Linked DNA regions of Homo sapiens. The protein of the gene in region 1 interacts with the protein of each later gene in a pairwise test. Each region holds a gene or a part of one and is shown on either strand. Other genes may lie near its edges. The genes, in order: LAG3 and FGL1.

The links.
Region 2: the proteins of LAG3 (region 1) and FGL1 interact in binary tests that used the Homo sapiens proteins (3 or more experiments, as listed by UniProt).

The regions. Positions count from the first base shown.
Region 1 is NC_000012.12:6,775,502-6,779,268, forward strand, and holds the end of LAG3 (lymphocyte activation gene 3 protein isoform 1 precursor), read left to right. Parts: coding exon 1-47; intron 48-1,762; coding exon 1,763-2,005; intron 2,006-2,289; coding exon 2,290-2,420; coding exon of another isoform or gene 2,421-2,506; intron 2,507-2,742; coding exon 2,743-2,889; 3' UTR 2,890-2,954; downstream 2,955-3,767. UniProt on the Homo sapiens protein: Lymphocyte activation gene 3 protein: Inhibitory receptor on antigen activated T-cells. Delivers inhibitory signals upon binding to ligands, such as FGL1. FGL1 constitutes a major ligand of LAG3 and is responsible for LAG3 T-cell inhibitory function.
Region 2 is NC_000008.11:17,881,824-17,885,754, reverse strand, and holds part of FGL1 (fibrinogen-like protein 1 precursor), read left to right. Parts: intron 1-183; 5' UTR 184-200; coding exon 201-263; intron 264-3,575; coding exon 3,576-3,756; intron 3,757-3,931. UniProt on the Homo sapiens protein: Immune suppressive molecule that inhibits antigen-specific T-cell activation by acting as a major ligand of LAG3. Responsible for LAG3 T-cell inhibitory function. Binds LAG3 independently from MHC class II (MHC-II).

The DNA.
Region 1 (3,767 bases):
GCAGGAACAGCAGCTCAATGCCACTGTCACATTGGCAATCATCACAGGTCAGCCTCAGGTGGGAAAGGAGTAGCTGCCCTCCCAGGGTAGAAAGGACAGGGAGGAAGGGCTGGCAGGGCAAAGACTAGGCAAACCCACCCTGTGATGCCAGGCCACTGGGCACAAGTTCCAGAGCCTGCCCATCTCGGCCCCCACTTTTCTCACCCCCATAATAAAGAAACGAAACTGAAAATCTCCTCTTGAGTCACAAGATAAAAGTTCCACCGTTCTCTATGGGACTCCCCTGCTCTCAATTGGCGGGAGGGTCTGGGAAGTTAGAAGGAAAGGTGACAAAAATTCTGAATGGTTCGAAAGAGGTAGAATATATTTCTAGAATCCTTGTCTACTTTGCAGCCAGGGCTTGGGTTAGAGTTGCAGGAAGTGGCCTGGATTTGGGAGGAGTGAATAAATCCGTCCCTTGGTCAGCAAATATTTACTGAGCAAGGGTTTTCCAAGACAGTATAAAACAAACACAGAAAAAAGAATACTCAGAGAGTATGTGTTGACTGGTTGATAACTATCGGCCATGACAGATTAGCCATGTCTGCAGCACGCACCTGCGGCCACTCAGTAGTAGCACCCCACGGCAGGTGCTTAATAATGTATAGAGATTGAATGAATACGTGAACATGCTAATGGATAATACATCTCCTGAAGGCCAATCCTGAGTTTTCACTTGCTTTCTGGATACCTCTAACTAGATGTTATACCACCTCTCAGCCGCCTTACCCTGAACCCCAGCTTTTTCTCCCACCAATCCCCTTGCTGACTCAGCCTGTCAGTAATCCACTGGTATCCATCCACCTCGAAACCTGGCCTCCTCCTCTCTACATCCCATCAGTCATCAAAGTCCACCAGTTCTTTCTGTCCAATGCCCTCTTGAAGGTCAACTGTTTTATGTAGACGGCTCAATGAGAGAGATACTGTTACCCCGAAGACTTTCTCAAAACAGCTGGGAAGTGCCAGACTCTGGGTCTAAACTCAGGTGTCTGCATCACCAAATCACTCTCCAGGACACTACTCAGATGCCCTTCACCCTTTGTCTCCTCCCACCCACCCATCTCTCACTTTACAACTTGGAGAATGCTCTGTCTCTAGATGAATGGGTCAGTTCCCTGTTCTCTATACCTTCAGAAAGGGGGATGATGTTCATTCAGGGGGCACCACAAGGCAGGGGACACTGATGTGAGCCGCATCATGGAAGTTCCAAAATTGTGAAGTAGATGGGGGTCAGCTCATCTGACTGATTTTGAGGGTTCTGAGCATTTGAGTAGAAAGTAATGTAAAAGAATCTGTAATAGTATTTATTCTGTGGTCTGCCAGGGCCAGTTTGAGTGTGAAGGCAGTAGGGAGCCTGGAAATGTTTTGAGCAGGGGAGGGAGCTGACTAGAGCATTGTCTGAATAAGATAAATGTGGCCGGCAGGGCATGATGGCTCACACCTGTAATCCCAGCACTTTGAAAGGCTGAGACGAGAGGAGCACTTGAGTCCAGGAATTCCAGACTAGCCTGGGCAACATGGTGAAAACGCATCTGTATACAATTTAATAAAAAAATAAATAGAAAGAAAAAGATGAACGTGGCCATGACCCATGATGTCCTTCCCCAACCTCCCCTGGCCAGAACCCAAGTGAGTGCAGGGTGATTGAGACTTGGGGTTCAACCTGTGATATCACGTAAGGGGGGCAGAATCCCAAAAGATCTCTTCCTTCTACTCTTTTCAGTGACTCCCAAATCCTTTGGGTCACCTGGATCCCTGGGGAAGCTGCTTTGTGAGGTGACTCCAGTATCTGGACAAGAACGCTTTGTGTGGAGCTCTCTGGACACCCCATCCCAGAGGAGTTTCTCAGGACCTTGGCTGGAGGCACAGGAGGCCCAGCTCCTTTCCCAGCCTTGGCAATGCCAGCTGTACCAGGGGGAGAGGCTTCTTGGAGCAGCAGTGTACTTCACAGAGCTGTCTAGCCCAGGTCCGAGGCCCCAGAATGCCAGGACCCAAACGCCACAGCAATAATCTTTATCCTCCTTCCAGAACAGCCCCTGCCACCCCCATCCCAGCGCTTTTCTTTCCAGTCAGGGACCTGATCTCTGGCTTTTGCCTAGGGTTGACCCGTTTCCGCCACTGATCAGCTGAATGACCCTGGGACAAGTCCCTTAAACTCTCTGGATCTCATTGCATCTGTAAAGTCTGAGAGAATGACAAAGTGTCCTTTCTAGTCCTGACCCTATGCCTCATCCTGTACTTTCTCCATAGGTGCCCAACGCTCTGGGAGAGCCCCAGGTGCCCTCCCAGCAGGCCACCTCCTGCTGTTTCTCATCCTTGGTGTCCTTTCTCTGCTCCTTTTGGTGACTGGAGCCTTTGGCTTTCACCTTTGGAGAAGACAGGTGAGCCAGGGACATGGCAACCCCGCCCCCCAGCAGCTCCCGCTCTTCCATCCTCAGAGTGCTGATGGCACCCCTTCCTCAGGAAGGTGACCAAATGGGACCCTGAACTTGCCCTCAGAGCCCCCCTTCTTCATAAGCCTCTCACTCCAGGGATGGCTTGTGCCTGGGTAGGCTGGAAGGGGGGTTGGGAGAAAGCCAGGACCAGATGGGGAGGGCAGGGGCGCTGAGAAAAAATAGAGGGACTCAGTGTCCCTCCTCATCCGCTTCCCTTCATCCTTCTCCTCCTTCCGCCCTCCGTCTCTCTCTCCATCTCTTCTCACAGTGGCGACCAAGACGATTTTCTGCCTTAGAGCAAGGGATTCACCCTCCGCAGGCTCAGAGCAAGATAGAGGAGCTGGAGCAAGAACCGGAGCCGGAGCCGGAGCCGGAACCGGAGCCCGAGCCCGAGCCCGAGCCGGAGCAGCTCTGACCTGGAGCTGAGGCAGCCAGCAGATCTCAGCAGCCCAGTCCAAATAAACTCCCTGTCAGCAGCAAGCCTGAGTCTGGCTCTTTCTTGTCCAAGTGAAGGTTCCCGTCTCTCCCCAGCCTCTGAGGGCTCCCTTCTCCCACCCTAGCCTCCTAACCTACTTTCCCCAGCCAGCCTCCCTCACCTTCCCCTTTTCTGTTTCTGGCTGCTTCGTGTTTCTTTCTTGGTCTCTCTCTCTCTTGCGCTCACTCTCTCTTTCTCTCTCCTGGGTAATCATTTCTCTGAAGCTCCCCCGAAAAAGCCCTTGCCCCTTGCCTCCGCAGCTCTCTCCTCCGTCCTTCCACCCACCTTCCACCCACAGTGCGCTGGCTGCCCTGGTTTCCTTGATATTTTTGTCCTTTGGGTCCACCCCACCCCACACTCAGCTGCACTTCAGCACTTGTCCTTGGCCCTCCGGCTGCAGCAGATGCGCACATATGCTCGCGCGCACGTGCACACACACATGCACACACACGCGCGCGCGCACACGCACACACACACACACACACACACACGCGCGGCGCGCAGAGGACTGCCTTGTCAAGTCTTCCAGGAGATCCGGTCTGGAAACCTCTCTGGGCAGCCGGCTGGGGCTCCTACCTCTGCCCCACCCCCCACGTTCCTCAGCCCTTGGAGGCTTTTCTGGTCCCAGGCATGAGAACACACTGCCACCCAGTGGTCACTGCTTGTCACACCCCAACGGAGGTCACTGGGCCGGCTGCGGCAGGCCTGAGGAGTTGAGCAGTGCAGTGGACAAGGCAGGGCACAGACTGCTGTGAATGCAGGCACCGCCTTTGTATTATGCACGTTCTATGTGCAGCATATGAGTATGTGCCCGGTGA
Region 2 (3,931 bases), on another chromosome or scaffold:
TAACACTCAGTGTCATTCTGTGTGGTGAGAGGCTGGGAAAGTCTGGGAGAATTTCCTCGGCGACTCTAAGATTAGGGATGGCCTGCGGCTGCATCCGACTTCCTGGAGCTACTGAAGTCTGAACTCTGGTCTCATGAAAAATTCAAGGTTGATACATTTATAAAATTCTTTTTGTTCTTGCAGTTTTTTCAAGGGGGAACATGGCAAAGGTGTTCAGTTTCATCCTTGTTACCACCGCTCTGACAATGGGCAGGGAAATTTCGGTAAGCTTCTTGGGAAAACTATTGTCATATTTATAATGCCTGCTTTTATCTGAATTTTCTTTCATTTTGCATTAAACCTATAGTGACTTGTCATTGAAAAAACTTAACTATGTGGGAAAAGCAAAGAGGCTGGTAGAAATACTGGACACATAGTAAAGCAGCACTTTAAAGCGCTTTACATTTTTGCAGGGGAGGCCGAGATGGGTGGATCACAAGGTCAGGAGTTCGCAACCAGCCTGGCCAATATGGTGAAACCCCATCTTTACTAAAAAAAATACAAAAAATTAGCCGGGCGTGATGGCACGCATCTGTAGTCCTAGCTACTCGTGAGGCTGAGGCAGGAGAATCCCTTGAACCCAGGAGGCGGAGATTGCAGTGAACTGAGATCATGCCACTTCACTCCAGCCTGGGCGACAGAGTGAGACTCCATCTCAAAAAAAAAAAAAGTGCTTTACATTTTTTTAAATAAAAAGTATTCATAATAAATAAGTAATTTTTAAAAATTCACTGGAGTTATTTGGTTGGAATATTAGAAATTTGAAACTGTCCATAGTAATTAAAATTAACCTTGAGCTTTTCAATATTGAAAAGTGTAAAACTAACCAGATTATTTGAAAGTAATTACATCGAACTTGTGTTGTCCTTCATTTGTGAATAAAAAAGACAAAACATTCATTCAAAGTTCTTGGAGAAAGAAAACTCCTAGGTTTTAAATAAGCTTACTAAATATGCGTATGCAATCTCATAAAGATTGGGCATACTTGACCTGTGATGTCTTCAATTATTTTAAAATTGCATAGTGCACTATGTTTAACAATATCACAACCGATCCCCCACTGTTGTAAAACAACTCAGGACCCAGACACCATAAAATGTTCTTGCTGTTCATTTTTTAGCCTATGTGACTCAAGGTGCTAAGCAAATAACTATCTCAGAAGGGATAAATCTGAGTGTTAGGGATAGAGTAACAAGAACAAATAAGAAGTAATCCTAGAGAGGCCTGGTGCAGTGGCTCACGCCTGTAATCCCAGCACTTTGAGGGGCCGAGGTGGGTGGATCGCTTGAAGCCAGAAGTTTGAGACCAGACTGGGCAACATGGCAAAACCCCATCTCTACTAAAAATACAAAAATTAGCTGGGTGTTATGGCACACAACCTGTATAGTCCCAGCTACTTGCCAGGATGAAGCACAAGAATCGCTTGAACCAGAGAGGCAGAGGTTGCAGGGAGCCGAGATCGCACCACTGCACTCCAGCCTGGGCAACAGAGCAAGACTCTGTTGAAAGAAAGAGAGAGAGAGAGAGAAGGAATCATCCTAGAAAAATGGCTGGGAGAGGTTCTGTGACTTGGACCTAGGGATGGGAAGAAAGGAAAGAAAGAAAAGAAAAGAAGGAAGGGAGGGAGGGAGGGAAGGAGAAAGAAAGGAAAAGAACAAAAGAAAAGAAAAAGAAGAGGAGAAAGAAATCATTTTAGAAAAATGGCTGGGAGAGGTTCTGTGACTTGGACCTAGGGATGGGAAGAAAGGAAAGAAAAGAAAGGAAGGAAGGAAGGGAGGGAAGGAGGGAAGGAGAAAGAGAGGAAAAGAACAAAAGAAAAGAAAAAGAAAAGAGGAGAAAGAAATCATCCTAGAAAAGATATCTGGGAGAGGTTCTGAGAAAGGAAACGTAAGGGAAGAGGAAGGGAAAGGGGAAGGGGAAGGAAAAGGGAGAAACCATCCTAGAAAAATGGCTGGGAGAGGTTCCATGACTTGGACCTAGAGATGGGAGGGAGGGGAGATGTACTACATATATATATATATAAAAAATATATATATATTATAGACTATATAAATATAAATGTATTATATATGCATATGTATTTGATATAATATATACTATATAAATCCATTATGTAATTTTATATATACGTATATTATGTATAAATATAATATATTATATAAAGTAGACTATAATATAATAAATACAATTATATTACATTATATTATATATAAATATATTTAATATATTATATATTATTTATATTTATATATTATATAATATCTATTCATTTATATTCATATATATTCATATTATATATTTTGTAATATATATTATATATTATTATTATATTGTATATTATTTTATATATTATATATTATTATTATATTATATATTATTTAATATATTATATATTATTATATGTTATTTAATATATTATATATGATATATATGATATATTATTTAATATATTATATATGATATATATTATATATTATTTAATATATTATATATGATATATATTATATATTATTTAATATATTATATATGATATATATTATATATTATTTAATATATTATATATGATATATATTATATATTATTTAATATATTATATATGATATATATTATTTAATATATTACATATGATATATATTATATATTTAATATATTACATATGATATATATTATATATTTAATATATTACATATGATATATATTATATATTTAATATATTACATATGATATATATTATATATTTAATATATTATATATGATATATATTATATATTATTTAATATATTATATATGAGATATATTATATATTATTTAATATATTATATATGAGATATATTATATATTATTTAATATATTATATATGATATATATTATATATTATTTAATATATTATATATGATATATTATATATTGTTTAATATATTATATACTATATATTATATATTGTTTAATATATTATATATTATATATATTATATATTATTTATATGCATATATAATATATATAATATATAATATACATTAAATATACATATTTAAAAGTATTTATACCAGACAGCCATTCAAAAACCTCATTTATTATGGAGATTTACATGCCAACAGTACAATTAACTTCTATAAACCACATTACTGTTTAGAAAACACATAAGCAATGTCATATAGAGATTGAGAGCACAGTCCTTGAACTGAATTTGAATCCCACCTCCGCTTACCCACTGGGCATCAAGACTGAGCCCTTTCCTACCGCATGGAATTGTTATGAGGATCAAAGGAGACAACTATAAAGCTCCTAGCATAGCGATTCCAATTATTTTATATTATTTGATCTTTTGAGTCCAGGAGTTTTCGCATAAGCCATAATTTCCAATTCTTCAAATAGTAGGCAGTATTAGAACTTTTCAAGCCACTTTCTCTTTGGAATAATATTCTGAAATGGGAACTGGAGACAAAATGGAATCACTGATTTATCCAAATGTTTAAAAAGCACTTGTTTTCCATGAAAATGAGGTGCATACTCATCTCATCTCACCTGTTTTGCAGGCGCTCGAGGACTGTGCCCAGGAGCAGATGCGGCTCAGAGCCCAGGTGCGCCTGCTTGAGACCCGGGTCAAACAGCAACAGGTCAAGATCAAGCAGCTTTTGCAGGAGAATGAAGTCCAGTTCCTTGATAAAGGAGATGAGAATACTGTCATTGATCTTGGAAGCAAGAGGCAGTATGCAGGTCAGAATGGACTTTTCTTAAGTGTTTCTATAACTTACATTATGCACCCATGTACAGTGATGGTGCTAGTTATTTCAGGCTTTTCCTATTTCAGTAACAAGCAATATGAAGCATTATATCTATTGTAAATGTCTTCTTTCACACTTTACTTTTTTTTTTTTTTTTGAGGCGGAGT